Linked DNA regions of Homo sapiens. Changing the gene in region 1 together with any one later gene gives a genetic interaction. Each region holds a gene or a part of one and is shown in the gene's direction. Other genes may lie near its edges.

Region 1 (3,815 bases):
TTTTATTTTATTTTTGTTTTTTTTTTGAGATGGAGTCTCGCTCTGTCACTGAGGCTGGAGTGCAGTGGCACGGTCTCGGCTCAGTGCAGCCTCCACCTCTGAGGTTCAAGTGATTCTCCTGCCTCAGCCTCCTGAGTAGCTGGGATTACAGGCGTGCGCCACCACACCGAGCTAATTTTTTGTATTTTTAGTAGAGAGGGTTTTACCATACCGGCCAGGCTGGTCTTGAATTTATGACCTCAAGTGATCCGCCCACCTTGGCCTCCCAGAGTGTTGGGATTATAGGCGTGAGCCACTGCGCCTGGCCTACAGTGCACTTTAAATCCAGTATTTGTTGATTCTTTTTTGCCTAGGATCTGTCTAATGTTGCGAGTCTGATGTTGATGTCCCCAAATATTATTGACCCCTTTTATTATTATATAATGACCTTCTTGTCTCTTTTTATTGTTTTTGACTTAAAATCTGCTTTATCTGATAGAAGTATAGCTATTCCTACTTGCTTTTAGTTTCCATCTGCGTAGAATATCTTTTTGCATCTCTTCATTTTCAGTCTATGTGTGTCTTAATGTCTTTACAGGTTAAGTGAATTTCTTGGATACTTTTTCATGTTTTCATGATAGTGATTATTGTCTTCGCTTCCAGATGTAGGACTTTCTTAAGTATATCTTGTAAGGCTGGTCTAGTAGTGACGAATTCTCTGTTTTTGCTTTTCTCGGAAAGAATTTATTTCTCCCTTATTTCTGAAGGATAGCTTTGCTGGATGTAATATAGTTGGCTGGCAGTCTTCTTTTTTTTCTTCAACACTTTGAATATATATCATCCCATTGTCTCCTGGCGTGCAAGGTTTCTGCAAAGAAATCTGCTGTTAGTCTAATGGGGATTTTCTTATATGTGACTTCAAGCTTTTCTCTAGCTGTTTTTAGAATTTCCTTTATATTTGACTTTTGACAGTTTGACTATAATGTGCCTTGGGGAAGACCTTTCTGGGCTGACTCTATTTGGGAATTCTTGAACTTCCTGGTTTTAGATGTCTATACCTCTCCCCAGTCTTGGAAAGTTTTCAGCTATCTCATTAAATAGGTTACTAAGCCTTTTCCCTTCTCTTCTCCTTCTTGAACTCCCATAATGCCAGCATGTATTCACTTAATGTTGTCCCATAAATCTTATAGGCTTCCTTCATTCTTTTTCGTTCTTCCTGCTTTTTTTCTCTCTGACTAGGTAGTTTCAAATGACAGAGATTTTTTTTCTGCTTCATCCAGTGTGCTGTTAAAACTGTCTATTGTATTATCTCATCCATTGAATTCTTCAGCTACAGGATTTCTGTTTGACTCTTTTTTACAATTTCTGTCTCAGTTTAAGTTCTTGTTCATATCATGAAATTGTTTTCTTGATTTTGTTGAATTATCTATCTGTATTTTGTTTCTCATTGAGTTTCCTTCAAAAAAATTATTATTTTGAATTCTCTTTCTGGCAATTCATTGATTTCCTTTTCATTAGAGTCTGTTCCTAGAGAGTTAATATTCCTTTCATGATTTCTTATTTCCTTGCTTTTTCATGTTTCTTGTGTCCCTGCATTGATGTCTCTGCATCTGGTAGAACAGGAGCCTCTTTTATACTTTCTTCTAGAGTGGCTTTCATGGAGAGGTTTTCACCTCACTTGGGTTTTACTGTGCCATTTGGGAAGAGAACCGTGACTTTCTGGATAGGAGCAGTGACATTGTTTCTGTGCAGCTTCCTCACCTCCATGAAATGTTGGCAATAACTGGGTGGCTCAGTGGCCTCAGCTCTGGAAGTTTGTGCCAGCGGTGGTGTATGTTTTTAAGGTCCTTGGTGTCAGGGGCTTTTGGGGTCCTGCTATTCTTGTTTTTCCCGCAATGGGGGACTTATCTGAGGGGATCTTTCTTGGTGTCAGGTCTGACATGGTCTGCAAGCAGCTGCCACAGTGCTGGGTTTCAGCTACAGGTACTCAGGGTAGCTGTGGGACTGGGGTCCTAGCCTTAGGGTCTTGTGTGCCTATCATGGCCTGGCCTTGGGGTGCAGGTTTACTCTCTGTGGTGGATCTCTGATCCTGAAGCACCCCTAGCAGCTTAAGCCCACAGGGCAAGGCTGTGGCTGTGGCTCCACCCGTGGGGTCAGGGCACAGTCCTGGCCTGACTCCAGGGAAGACGCACTCTGGAGGTTTGAGCCTGGGAAGCAGGGTAGAGCTGTACTTCAGAAACCTGAGCCAGTAGGGAGGGCTTAGTGTCAGCTCAAGGGGAACTCTGGACCCTGGGATGGTGGGGCCCAGCAGTATCCCAGACTCTCTGATGCTAGGTGAGGTGGCAGCAAGGACCCCAGAATGGACTAGTCCAGCTGTCATTTGGGCCCTAGAGGACAGGGAGGAGGACAGCAGTGACTCCATTTCCTGGAAAGAGTGGTGACTCTGCAGCTCAGAATATAGGGTTAGTCCAGCTCCAGGGAGCAGGTGCTGGAGCTGTTTGCGTGGTGGGGCAGGTGCCTCGGCTCAGCCCCTGCCCTGTTTCCCTGGGGTGTGGAGTACAATGTCAGCTCCTCCCCATGGTATGTGGCTGGTCAGCCTGGGCCTGAGGGTTGTGACTCTTCTGGGCGCCCCAGGCACCGTTGCCCTGGGATACAAGGTACCTCTTCAGCATAGACGCTGGGATATGTGACCATTCTGGGCATTTCCCAGGAAGCAGGGCACTGCTTCAGCTCAGGCAGCAGGGAGACAACGTTCCCTGAGAGGCCACGGTGCTATTTACCAGGAGGCAGGGTACCGTTGGGTGCTAGAGCAAGGGCTAGTAGAGGGGCTCCACCTCCACCAAGCCCTGCTGGGAAGGGGTAGCAGCTGCTCACAGCTGGCTTGGGGATGTTGGGCCACCAGGTTTGGGTAGTTTGGAGGCAGTTTAGCCTCAGGGATGAAGGGGAGCTGTGGCCACTTCCCCTGAGCAAGACATACTCCAGCCGCAGTTCCAGTCCCAAGATGATGGAGTATAGCCGCCCCATGGGCCCAACAGACAGGGCCCAGTGTCAGCTCCTTCTGTGTGGGAGCACAGCTGTGAGGATGCCAGGGGGCTCCGGTGGTGAGGGCTGTGGGTGTCCAGAGTGGTGGCAGGGCTGCTGCCATCCTCTTGCTTACCCCCTCACCGTAGGGAGAACCTCCTCCTGGGTCCCGTTGCATCCCAGCTGTAGGGTGGGTTGCTGGCGGCCCAGTGTGTTTTTTTTGGTTTGTTTGTTTGTTTGTTTGTTTTAAGACGGAGTCTCGCTCTGTCCCCCAGGCTGGAGTGCAGTGGCGTGATCTCTGCTCAATGCAAGCTCCACCTCCCAGGTTCACACCATTCTCCTGCCTCAGCCTCCCGAGTAGCTGGGACTACAGGCGGCCGCCACCACGCCTGGCTAATTTTTTATATTTTTAGCAGAGACAGGGTTTCACCATGTTAGCCAGGGTGACCTTGACCTCCTGACCTCATGATCCACCCGCCTCGGCCTCCCAAAGGCTGGGATTACAGGCATGAGCCACCGCGCCTGGCCCCTGGTGTTTTCTTTGGGCTGTATTTCATCGTCTTGCGTTTTTCTGCTCCCCAGGGTGCCTGTTACTCCTGTGATGCCCTCTGGAGCTCCCCCTCAGTTATTAACATGTAGTTGTTCGTTATTCTGATTGCCTTTGTTGTGGGGGACAGATGTGAGGGGCTACTAGTCGGCCATCTTTTTGATGTCATTTGTGTTTTCTTGATCATAGAAGAATATGAAGAAAATAACTGTTTTTAGGATATGTCTGTTTTTTAAGACTTTGAAACAACCACAGATGTTCACATTTG
Region 2 (3,815 bases), about 90 Mb from region 1:
GGGACAATTCTTGGCACAGAGTTGCTCAATAAATAGTGTGTGGGATAAATGGACTATGCATACATTCCATTTGGCTTATTTTTTCCTTGGGTTTTAGAATAGTCAGTTTCTTCTTTCTGGGACAGTCTGAAGTAACCTTCCAGAAACTGAGCCTCGCTCTGCAACCCATCCTTATGTAGAAGACCATATGAGTTAGAGAGTCTCCAGGCCCTATCTTTTGAGAAAGTCTGTGGACATATTCCGCTTTTGCTGGATTACAGTTAAACCATTTAAACCAAACCTAAAAGAGTAGCAAAACAGTTGACTTTGTAAAAGGTCAGATGTATTTCAACACAGAACCATCAAAACACCTATGGAGTGAACCATACTTTATATCGAGTTTGACCCTATCTCCCATTCTTACTTGTGCCAATTTTCCTTTTGGCCTTACCTATTTTTTTCTTCTTTACAGATTGCTTGCACACATTTAGATGTGGATTTAGTCTGCATAACTGTAACAGAGAAACTACCATTTTACTTCAAAAGACCTCCTATTAATGTGGTAAGTGTACTTTCCATTCTGTATTTGAATCTTAGAAACTTACATTAGCAAATTGGAAAAGAAGCAGAAGAAATCAGTGTTCTTAGAAGGAAAAACAAAGGCTAGGGAATAGGAGGCAGTTTTAGAAAAGAGAATTTTCGTTTTGAAAGCTGAACAAAGGGAGAAAGAAAGCTTAAAATTAAAAATATCCAGTTAATTATTAAGATGTTTTTAAAAGGCCATAGAACCCAAAATTTATAAAGGATATTTCTTAAGAGGATAGCTAATAATCATGGGTACTTATAACCTGAACATCAATTATTAAGGGAACAGAGCAGTCAAAAAAGAAGAGGAAGGGAAAAAATAAAAAGCAGAGGATCCTTGAGGCACCAGGAAGCTAAAGAGAGTCAAGAGGGAACAGGGCATGGCATCACATAGACGTGGTCTATGCAAAATTAAAATCTGTGTTGAAGCATGCTTATTCACAAAGAGCCCAGAGTTACTTTTATATGAACCTAATAGGATGGCCATGTGTTCAGAAAACTTTTTTGTTTCTCCCTCTGCTATAGAATTTTTCTCATTCCCCTTCTACATAGTTTTCTCTTGTTTTCCCATACCCTTCATCTTCTATCTGTCCATTCCTTCTTCTGTCTTAATTTCCTCCCATTTCCATCATAAGGTAATATTATTTCACACCAGTAACTATTTTAGTAGCAAAAGGTCAGCACAGCTGTTAACTATTTGCTTTGCCAGTCAGATCCTAGGAGGAGTTCAGATGCTATTTTAGAGTAGTGGCTTCCAAAACCCTAGTCTCCTGTTCTCAAAAACTGGTATCCAAGGAGAAAAAAAAGAGTTTAGCAAATACAGTCAAAATTACATATCCAATCCTGTCAGAATCAGAAGATTAATTTTTTTTAAGTTTTTCAAAGGATAATTCCCTTGCTCTTTTGCCTCTGTAGAATCATAACTTTCTCAATTTTAATTCTCTTTGGTGCTAAGGAATTGGCTTGAGAATTAGAGGGAGACAGTAAGAGGAGAAAATGGAAAATTAGTATGTGAAAATTCAGTGTGGCAAAAATTATTAGTAGTAGTAGTAGTAGTAGTAGAGACAGGGTGTCACTCTATTGCCCAAGCTAGAGTGCAGTGGCATGATCATAGCTCACTGCAGCCTCAACTTCCTGGGATCAAGTGATCCTCCTACCTCAGCCTCCTGAGCAATTGGGACTACAGGTGCATGCCACCACACCTGGCTAATTTTTTTATGTTTTGTAAAGTTGAGGTCTCACCATGTTTCCCAGGCTGGTCTCAAACTCCTGGGCTCAAGCAATCCTCCCACCTCAGCCTCCCAAAGTGCTCAGCTTACAGGCATGAGCCACCATGCCTGACCCACCCAATGGGGAAAAGTTTAAGTTAGCTTATGTTCTACCCCTAAAAATATGCTACTCAAACTAAAAATATATCATCATATATTTCAAGGGAAAAACATAAAAGCTCTTGTTGGGTAAATTTTTTTTTTTTTTTTGAGACGGAGTCTTGCTGTCACCCAGGCTGGAGTACAGTGGCACGATCTCGGCTCACTTCCACCTCCACCTCCCTGGTTCAAGCAATTCTCCTGCCCCAGCCTCCTGAGTAGCTGGGATTACAGGTGCACACCACCATGTCCGGCTAATTTTTGTATTTCTTTTTAGTAGAGATGGGGTTTTACCATGTTGGCCAGGCTGGTCTCAAATTCCTGACCTTGTGATCCGCCCGCCTCAGCCTCGCCAAATGCTGGGATTACAGGCGTGAGCCACCACACCCGGCCTAGGGTAAATATTGACAGTACTAGTGAACATAACAATATTGGCTGAGCTCAAATCATTGGTTCCTTGTGTTATTGCCAGTACTTATAAATAAATAAGTAAACAGTGAAAAACCACTGAATCACCACATTTTCGAGTTGGAAATCTATGTTGTGCAACAGTTCATTTGTCAAATGTGGGGAAATGAAAAACTACAAGAAGTCATTCAGTTCTGTAGTCACACAGGGTTAGGAAAGTTCTGATTGGTTGTCTGTCAAGATCTCTGATGTGCCCCAGGTACCTATGATAAAAGCCACAAATTAATACAGTACTCAAGGTTATGGCAGTCTTGTTGGCCTCACATATTGTTTCTCTCCAGAGGTAGCAATCTCTGTCTTTAGAAGTTTGCCTAACCTTTTTACCAGCCTCAAACTGCCAATACAGTTTCTGTGGAAGTAGCACCCCCAGAGTTGGGCACTATAGCTACTCAGCAAATTGCTAGTGAACTTGCAACTTTTTCACCTTTTTCTTCATCTTAATGAACTAGGAAGGTCATTTTCTAGATGGCTTTGCCTGAATAAGCCCACATACGATACTGTGACCTTTGATGGGAGGAGCTAGCATGTGATGTTAAGGCCAAGTCCATGGAATGGACAGCAATGCACAACAGATAATTCCTCATGTCTCACGACAGTGGTAAGATTCCCAGTGGCTGCTTTGGTGAGAGCTTTTAATTGGGGTTCTTAGGAACTTGTATTATTATTTAAACCAGAGTGTGAGCTCCTAGAGAACACCGGCTGTCATGGTCCTTTTTTAAGTACTCCACTATCTTGCGTATAATGAGTCCTCCTTACAGTTTGTTGAGTCAATAAGTACATGTTGAACTTAGCATATCAGGGTACAGCATAGGGGACCTGGCCAAATTCTGCTCGTTGTTAGTCACCAGCTGGATGTCCACATTCATCAGGAAGTATATGCCGTGAGGGAAGTGGGGCAGTGGGGCAACATGAGGAGGACAGTGGCACTCAAGACAGTTGACACCAGGACACCCCACCCCCTGATTCCATTGGGAAGTTCAGGAAAGCTCCTTTCGTTTGATGGGCATTTTTCGCTTAATTCCTACATTTTTCAATTTAAGAATTCTGAAAAGTAAAAAATTCTGTCAAGTGAGAGGGATATGCAGTTTAACATGGTGTCTGCTTTAAAAAAAATCTGGTGTGAACATTTTGCATATGTTGTTTAATAAAAACTAGATGATGGAGTGGAAAGAAAGGCTGCACAAGATTATTTTTAGTCTTCATCTAGTAGAAGAGTAGGCTGCACTGTGAATTGGTCAGGAAGCAGAAGAGTCCCTGTTAATTTATTCACCTATTTTTTATTAAAGAGAGAAAGTTGGAAACATACAGGTGTCTAGCTTGTTGTTCAGAGTAAATAATAGTTGTGGCATAGGTATGTATGTATTATTTGTAACATAATATCCAGTCTGGCTGTGGAGCTGTTTGTCTACATAAAGT

What was found.
Region 2: changes in GTPBP4 (region 1) and RPP30 together harm fitness more than expected from each alone (negative genetic interaction), as found in Homo sapiens cells (one large-scale study listed by BioGRID).

The regions. Positions count from the first base shown.
Region 1 is NC_000010.11:1,001,916-1,005,730, forward strand, and holds part of GTPBP4 (GTP-binding protein 4), read left to right. Parts: intron 1-3,815. UniProt on the Homo sapiens protein: Involved in the biogenesis of the 60S ribosomal subunit. Acts as a TP53 repressor, preventing TP53 stabilization and cell cycle arrest.
Region 2 is NC_000010.11:90,885,361-90,889,175, forward strand, and holds part of RPP30 (ribonuclease P protein subunit p30), read left to right. Parts: intron 1-451; coding exon 452-541; intron 542-3,815. UniProt on the Homo sapiens protein: Component of ribonuclease P, a ribonucleoprotein complex that generates mature tRNA molecules by cleaving their 5'-ends. Also a component of the MRP ribonuclease complex, which cleaves pre-rRNA sequences.